Regions from separate parts of the Homo sapiens genome. Here region 2 is linked to region 1. Evidence: fine-mapped expression QTL. A gene starts in region 1. The other region holds a variant in brackets. All regions are shown on one strand. Distances are from middle to middle.

What was found. PIP is the estimated chance that this variant, and not a neighbour inherited with it, causes the effect.
Region 2: its variant is fine-mapped to the expression of OXCT2 in spinal cord (GTEx, PIP 0.90).

What each region holds. Positions count from the first base shown.
Region 1 is chr1:39,769,588-39,773,978 of GRCh38, forward strand. OXCT2 (3-oxoacid CoA-transferase 2) reads right to left here and starts at 1,761. Exons shown (of 1, transcript NM_022120.2): 1 at 1-1,761. The coding sequence starts at 1,668. The coding sequence ends at 115. All of the region lies in intron 3 of BMP8B (bone morphogenetic protein 8b), which reads right to left. RefSeq lists enhancers at 1,134-1,807, 1,808-2,480 and a silencer at 1,694-1,793.
Region 2 is chr1:39,531,865-39,536,255 of GRCh38, forward strand. It overlaps the pseudogene PPIEL. Among named protein-coding and RNA genes, the nearest start is that of PABPC4-AS1, 31 kb to the right of the region's middle. The variant AG/A (reference allele first, on the strand shown) is at 1,782.

The sequences.
Region 1 (4,391 bases):
GAAAGTAGGAGGCCAGTAGCAAACCCCTCCCAGAGCTGGGGACATGTATTCCCCTGGGGAACCCGGTGGCACCCGCCCTGAGGAGCGCACCACCCCGCCCAGATCCAGGTCCCGTCAGGGTGCCACCTGCTGCATGGGCCTGAGGTTCGGGGACACAGCAAAGGCACACCCCGTGCTCTTTTTGATGTCGTCCACCGTCAGGCCCTCCCAGAGCTCCCTCAGCGTCAGCTCTTTCTTCCTGTGCACGTCAAACACGGCCTTCTCGGTGATGATGCGGTCCACGCACCGCTTCCCGGTCAGCGGCATGGTGCATTTCTCCATGATCTTGGGGGTGTTGTCCTTTGTGCAGTGCTGCATGGTGACCACCACTCTGGTCTTCTGACTGGACACCAAGTCCATGGCACCGCCCATGCCTTTCACCTTCTTGCCAGGGATCATCCAGTTCGCCAGGTCGCCGTATTTGGAAACCTGCATGGCTCCAAGCATGGTTAGTTGGATGTGTCCCCCTCGGATCATGGCGAAGGAGTCGTCGCTGGCGAAGAAGCAGCCCCCGGGAAGCACCGTGACCGTCTGCTTGCCTGCATTGATGAGGTCGGCATCCACCTCATCTTCCGTGGGAAACGGGCCCAGGCCCAGGATCCCGTTCTCACTGTGAAGATGGACAGTCATGCTGGGACTGATGAAGTTGCTGGCCAGCAGGGGGATGCCTATGCCCAGATTGGCGTACATGCCGTCCTCAAATTCCAGAGCTGCGCGTCTGATGATGCGCGTCCTGGCGTCCTCTTCCTTTCCAGCGTCTCCATCTTCCTCTTTCAGGATCGTTAAGCGCTCAATTCGTTTCTCGTATTTCTGCCCCTTTATCACGCGATCTACATAAATGTTAGGAACGTGGATGTCTTCTGGGGGGAAAGCCCCCACCTCCACGATCTCTTCCACCTCCACCGCCGTGACGTCTGCAGCTTTGCACATGGGCACGTTGAAATTGCGGGCGCTTCTCCTGAAGACCACGTTTCCTGCCCGGTCGGCCTTCCACCCTTTCACCAGGGCGAAGTCTGCCCGGATGGCGCGCTCCAAAAGGAAGTGGTCGCCGTTGAACTCCCTCACCTCTCGGGGCTGGCTCATGAGCGCCAGGTGGCCGTCCGGGGTGTAGCGGATGGGGGCGCCCCCTTCCTGGACCAGGGTCCCGTAGCCCGTGGGGGTGTAGAAGGCGGGCACCCCGGCGCCCCCCGCGCGGATGCGCTCGGCCAGGGTGCCCTGGGGCGTGAGCTCCAGCTCCAGCTCTCCTGCCAGGTACTGGCTCTCGCACAGGGTGTTCTCGCCCACGTAGGAACAGACGATGCGACGGACCTGCCTGGCGGCCAGCAGGAGGCCCAGGCCGAAGTCCTCCACGCCCACGTTGCTGCTGACCACCTGCAGGTCTTTCACGCGGGTCCTGAGCAGCGCGGCGATCAGGTTCTCGGGGATCCCGCAGAGCCCGAAGCCCCCGATCATGACGGTCGCCCCGTCAGAGATGTCCTTCACCATCTCCACCGGGTCCGCGTAGAACTTGGCACGGAGCCGGGGACTGGTGGCAAAGCAGCGGGCGCAGCCCTGGGACAGCGCGAGCCCTGAGCCGCCGGCGGGGACCCCGCGCCCGAGCACTGACGCCAGGAGCCGCAGCGCCGCCATAGTCGGCCCGGGTCGGAGGCCAGGACAGGTGGTGTGAGCCCTGCGTGCGCCTCGGGCCGCGCGTCACAGAGCAGGGCGGGCGCCCGCGCCCTGACGCACTCCCTCCCAGCAGGTCTCCCCGGCCAGGCGCAGGCTCTAGGCTAGGCCCGCGACCCGCAACAGGGAGGGGGCCGGCTCCGCCCTGGGCTGGGGGCCCCCGAGTCAGTCCTCCGTGTCCAGCGCACAGGCCCGGGCGCAGGACAGAGCTGAGGTCAGGCTCCGCGAGAAGGGCACAGGCTAGGTCCCCTCCTGCCCCAGTGGAGCCTCAGACACAAACTCCAACCACCCCGCCCAAGCTTCCCCCCAGCTTCCCCAGCTCATTAAAGACACCAAGTGTCCAATGAGCAGGCGCCGCTGGGTGACACCGACGCTCATGAACACCTTCACTGGGCATCACTCTGTGCCAAGCACCCTCCTTTAATCCTGTGACAACCCGGAGAGTGAGTGCCTGCCCCACTACAGCCTCCCAGAGCTCAGGTTCACCCCTCACTGCGACAGTGGGGACAGTATCCCTCACCTCCATCAGGAAGGGTCCCTGCTCTGAAGAGGCCCCCCGTCTTGTCCTCTGCATCCCCCCGCCCTCTCCACCTCCCCCACTCCAGCTCCCTGCTCCAACTTGTGCGGAATTTTGCAGTTTTCTTCCCTCTGCACAGAATCACTGCATCACCACAGCAGCGTGCAGGCGTCTCCTCACCTGGAAAGGACCTGCCTTGTCCCGGGTTCTCTCCAGCCCCAGCCCATGTCTCTGCTCCCCTTCCCCAGCAAAGGTTCTGGAAAGAGCTGTCTCCTGCCTCCACTGCCTGTCTCCCTCCACCTCCTCAGTCAGACCCACACTCCACGGATATTTAGGTCATCAACAACCTCTGTGATGGCAAAACCCTTGGTCACTTCTCTGTTCTTGCCTTCAGTGCCCACAGCAGGACACAAATGACAAACCCTTGCTTCTGGAAACACTTTACTCTGGCGTCTAGATCACCTCATCCTCCAGGTGTCCTGCTCCCTCCCTGGCTGGTCTCTGTGGGCTCTCTGTGGCCCCTCCTTGTGAGGTCTCTGGATGTTGGAGGTCCCAGGGCTCTGGGCCAGGCCCTCTTTCTTCTCCATCACTACCCTCCTTCCCTAGATGACCTGGTCCCATCCCATGCTTTAAATCCACTTACATGCCAGCACCTCCCTCGCCTGGGTCTTCACACTCACCGGTCCCTGTAATGGCATTTCCATGAGGACCAGTGATCTCAGTAACATCCCAGGGGGGTCAGTAATATTCCAGCCAAAAGAGAACCCTTGGCCACCCACCTCAAACCTGCCCTTCATCTATCTTTTCCCCAAAAAGAAAAATCTATTGAAAAAAATCCACTGGCTCCAACCACACATCATTCAGGCTTCCTCCTGTTCCCTCACCTCCTCGCCAGCTATAAGCATGTCCTGACACTGAAATCGACTCATCTTTCTCCATCTCCACTGCTACCAACAAGTCGCTCACAGCGCCCACCTGGACCACTGTGGGGCCCCCACACGTCTCTCTGACTTCACTCTTGTCCATCTCAGTCTGCTCTCTCCACTGAAGTCAGGGGGTTCTTTATTTTATGCATATATTAAGTTTTAATTTTACAACAGTTGATAGTTACATAAAACTTTGTAAAGATAGTACAGAGGCTAAGGTGGGAGGATCGCTCGCGCCCAGGAGTTGGAGGTTACCGTCAGCTGTGATTGCGCCACTGCACTCCAGCCTGAGCAACAGAGCCAAACCCTGTCTCAAAGAAAAAAAAACTACACAAGGAGTTCCCATACACCTGGACCCAGTTTCCTCTGGGAAATGCTAATATTTTACACTAGCAGGGTACCTTTCTCATAACTAATGAACCAATACTGATACCTTATTATTAAGTAAACACCATGATCGATCTGGATTTCATAACTTCTCCCTAATGACCTTTTGCTGGTCCAGGACTCAACCCAGGACCCCACATGCACTGAGCTGGTCTTCTTAGGTGCCTCTGGGCTCCTCCAATTTCCCAACCTTCCCTTTTTTTTGATGAGCTTGGCGGTTTTGAGAAGCGCTTGTCAGGTATTCTGCGGAAAGCCCTTCTCTTTGGGTTTGTTTGACGGTTTTCTCGTGGCTGGACTGGGGTTTTGGGTTCACGGAGGGGGCCCTCTGAGGCTCAGTGGCCTTCTCCTTCCCTTTCACCCAGGGCACATGCTAGCACCGTGCCGGTCACTGCAGTGAGCCTTCCTCACCTGGCTGAGGCGCTGCGCGTCAGGTCCCCCACGCCCTGTCCACACCGCACTTTCGGGAAGCAAGTCACTGGGTGCAGCCCACGGAAGGGGTGGGGAGCTCTGCTCCACCCCGAGAGGGGGGCATCTCAGAGGGTTCTCTTTTAAAACCTGAATCAGATCCTGTCGTCCTCCACTGCTAGTAAATAAAATAAATGACGCTAAGAACCCCAGCACCTGGCCCTGGTTTACTCTGACTCAGAATGGCCCCTGGGTCCCCCGCCCTCACCGCTGCTCCATGGCGCCCCCTTGCCGGGCCTCAAACACACCCATCTCGTGCCCACTTTGGCCTCTGTATTCCTACTGCCTGGCATAAAAGAGGCTCTCCCCAGTGTCACCTGTGGAATGAACAAGGGCGTGAATCCCCATCCTGCGGAAGAGAAGACGGGGTCTGGAAAGGTAAGTCCCAGCCA
Region 2 (4,391 bases), 240 kb before region 1:
GATCACCTTCTGCCTTGGCTTCCCATCCTTGCCTTTGCAGACAGAATAGAAGAGGGGACACTCAGGGGAGTGAAGGAGCAGAATAAAGACAGACTTTAGGGACATCCACCCCTACCTGCCCCCTGGGGACACTGGCCCTAACAGTGGTGGAGCTCACAATCTAGTGAAATACAGCCACCCAAAAAAGATGTGGATTCATCTCAGGAATGCAAAGTTGGTTTAACATCTAAAAATCAATCAATGTAATAGACAATTATCAATAGTATAAAGAACAAAAACCACATAATCATCTCAGATACAGAAAAAGCAGTAGACAAAATCCAACACCTTTTCATAATGAAAACTCAATAAACTAGGAGTGGAAGGGGGAACTTTCTCAATCTGATAAAAGGTATCAACAGAAAACTACATGTGAAAGACAAGATGCTTTCCCCCTAAGGTCAGGAACAAGACGAGGATATCTGCCCTTGACACTTCTATTCAACATTGTACTGAAGGTTCTAGCCAGGGTAATTAGGTGAAAAAAATGAAATGAAAGGCATCCAATCGGCAAGGAAAATGTAAAGCTATTTCTATTTGCAGATGACACACTCTTGCATATAGAAAATCCTAAAAAATCCACAAAAAAAACTATTAGAACTAATAAACAGGCCGGGCATGGTGGCTCACGCCTGTAACCCCAGCACTTTGGGAGGCCAAGGTGCGCGGATCACAAGGTCAGGAAATTGAGACCATCCTGGCTAACACGGTGAAACCCCATCTCTACTAAAAATACAAAAAATTAGCCAGGCGTGGTGGCGGGCGCCTGTAGTCCCAGCTACTCAGGAGGCTGAGGCAGGAAAATGGCGTGAACCTGGGAGGTGGAGGTTGCAGTGAGCTGAGATCGTGCCACCGCACTCCAGCCTGGGCGACAGAGTGAGACTCCATCTCAAAAAAAGAAAAAAAAAAGAACTATTAAACAAGTTTAGCAATGTTGCAGAATACAAAATCAATATACAATTGATTATATATATTTTTGTAGAGATGAGGTCTCATTATGTTGACTCGGGCTGGTCTCAGACTCCTGGACTCAAGTGATTTTCCCACTTCAGTCTCCCAACGTGCTGGGATTATGAGTGTGAACCACCATGCCTGGCCTGTTTTGTGGTTTTCAAAGTATAAGCTGTATACATCTTTTAAACTTATTCCTAAATATTTTATTCTTTTTTATGCTATTGTAAGTATAATTGTTTTTCTTTTTATTCTGTTTTCAGGTTGTTCATTGCTGATGTATAGAAATATAATTGCTATATCTACGGCCAGGCACGGTGGCTCACACCCGTAATCCCAACACTTTGGGAGGCCGAGGCGGGCAGATCACAAGGTCAGGAGATCGAGACCATCCTGGCTAACATGGTGAAACCCTATCTCTACTAAAAATACAAAAAATTAGCTCGGCGTGGTGGCGGGCGCCTGTAGTCCCAGCTACTCAGGAGGCTGAGGCAGGAGAATGGCGTGGACCCGGGAGGTGGAGCTTGCAGTGAGCTGAGATGCTGCCACTGCACTCCAGCCTGGGCGACATAGCAAGACTCTGTCTCAAAAATAAGAAAAGAAATATAATTGCTATATATATATGTGTGTGTATTTTTTTTAGAAGAGTCTTGCTCTGTTGTCCAGGCTGGAGTGCAATGGTGCAGTCACAGCTGTCTACAAAAATATTTTTTAAAATTAGCCAGGTGTGGTGGTGTGTGCCTATAGTTCCAACTAGTTGTAAAGCTGAAACATAAGGACCACTTGGGTAC[AG/A]GAGTTCCAAGACTGTGGTGAGCTGTGATTGCACCACTGCACTCCAGCCTGGGCAATACAGTGAGACCCTGTCTAAAAAAAAAAAAAAAAGAATGAGAGAAACTATTTGCAAATTATACATCTGATAAGAGACCTGTATCTAAAATATTTAAAGAATTCTGACTCGCTAGGCATGGTGGCTTACATCTATAATCCCAGCATTTTGGGAGGACAAGGTGGCAGGATTGCTTGAGCCCTGGAGTTCGAGACCAGCCTAGATAACATAGCAAGACCCCATCCCAATTAAAAAAAAAAAAAAAAGAAAACCAAAGAACATTACTGAAAAACACTGAAGAAGACCTAAACAAATGAAAAGATATCCTGTGTTCATGGATCAGAAGACTTAATATTGTTAAGATGATGATACTCCTAAATTCTTCACATTCAGTGCAATCTGTATTAAAATCCTAGCTGGCTTTTTTCATACGAGTTGATAAGCTTATCCCAAAATTCTTAAGAAATGTAAGAGACTCAGGATAACCAAAACAATCTTGAAAGGAAAAACAAAGTTGGAGGACTCGCATTTCCAGAATTAAAAATTTACTACAAAGCTATGGAATTTAAGACACAGTAGTAATGGCCTAATAACAGACATACAGATCAACAAAATATAATTTAGAATCCAGAAGAAACCCTTACATTTATGGTCAACTATATTCACCAAGGATACCAAGACAATTAAACAGGAAAAAAACTAGCCTTTTCAACAAATGGTGCTAGGACGACTGAAAATCCACATGTAAAAGAGTAACGCTGGACCACTTTCCTCACACTATACACAAAAATTAACTTCAAATGGAGTAAAGACTTCAGTGTAAGAGAGAAAACCATAAAATACTTAATAGAAAGTGTAGGAGTAAATCTTCATAATCACTACACCAAAAGTACAAGTGACAAAAAAAGATAAATTAGACTTTATCAAAATTAAAATATTTTGTGCTTCAAACGACGCCATCAAAAAAGTGAAAAGACAACCTATAGAATGAAAGAAAAGGCCGGGCGCAGTGGCTCACGCCTGTAATCCCAGTACTTTGGGAGGCTGAGGCGGGTGGATCACTTGAGGCTAGGAGTTTGGGACCAGCCTGGGGAACGAAGTGAGAGCCCCATCTCTACAAAAAATAAGAAAAAATTAGCCAGGCATTGTGGTGCATGCCTGTAGTTCCAGCTACTTAGGAGTCTGAGACAGAGGGATCACTTGAGCCCAGGAATTTGAGGCCACAGCAAGCTGTGACTGTGCCACTGCACTCCAGTCTGGTCAACAGAGCAAGACCCCGTCACTACAAAAATAAAAAAAGAAGGACTCTTGACTATATTTGGTCAGGTGTGGTGACTCATGCCTATAATCCCAGCACTTTGAGAAGTGAAGGCAGGCGGATCACTTGAGGCAAGCCTGGGCAACACAGGGAGACCCTGTCTCTACAAAAAATAAAATTAGCTGGGCCTGGTGGCATGCACCTGTAGTCCCAGCTACTTGAAAGGCTGAGACAGGTGGATCACTTGGGCCCAGAGGGTCAAGGCTGCAGTGAGCTGTGATCACATCACTGCACTCCAGGCTGGGTGACAGAGTGAGAACCTGTCTCAAAAAACAAAAAACAAAAGAATTCTTACTCAACAATAGAAAGACAAATAATCCAATTAAAAATTGGTAAAGGGTCTGAAGAGACATTTTTCCAAAGAAGATATAGAGAAGGCCAATAAACACATGAAAAGATGCTCAACATCATTAACTAGCACGGAAATGCCAATCAAAACCACAATGAGATACCACTTCACATCACTAGGATAGGTCTAATAAAAAAAGAAGGATAATCACAAGTGTTGGTGAGGGTATAGAGGCATCAGAAACATCATACACTGCCGTTAAGAATGCAAAATGGGGCAGTGGCTCATGCCTGTAATCCCAGCACGTTGGGAGGCCAAGGCGGGCGGATCACAAGGTCAGGAGATCAAGACCATCCTGGCTAACACGGTGAAACCATGTCTCTACTAAAAATACAAAAAAATTAGCCAGGCGTGGTGGTAGGCGCCTGTAGTCCCAGCTACTCGGGAGGCTGAGGCAGGAGAATGGCGTGAACCCGGGAGGCGGAGCTTGCAGTGGGCTGAGATTGCGCCACTGCACTCCAGCCTGGGCAACAGAGTGAGACTCCATCTCAAAAAAAAAAAAAGAATGCAAAATGGTACAGCCACTTCAAACAGTCTGGTCGTTTCTCAAAACATTAAAAATAGTTATCAGCCAGACACGGTGGCTCATGCCTGTAATCTCAGCACTTTGTGCAGATCACTTGAGGCCAGGAATTCGAGACCAGCTGGCCATCATGGCAAAGCTCCGTCTCTACTAAAAATACAAAAATTAGCCGAGTATGGAGGTGCATGCCTGTAATCCTAGCTAGGGGAGGCTGAGGCAGGAGAATCTCTTGAACCAGGGAGGTGGAGGTTGCAGTGAGCCGAGATTGTGCCACTGCACTCTAGAGTGAAATTCTGTCTCAAAAAAAAATAAATAAATAGTTATATAACCCAGCATTTCCAATTCTATGGCTACATCTAAGAGAAATGAAAACATATGTCTACAC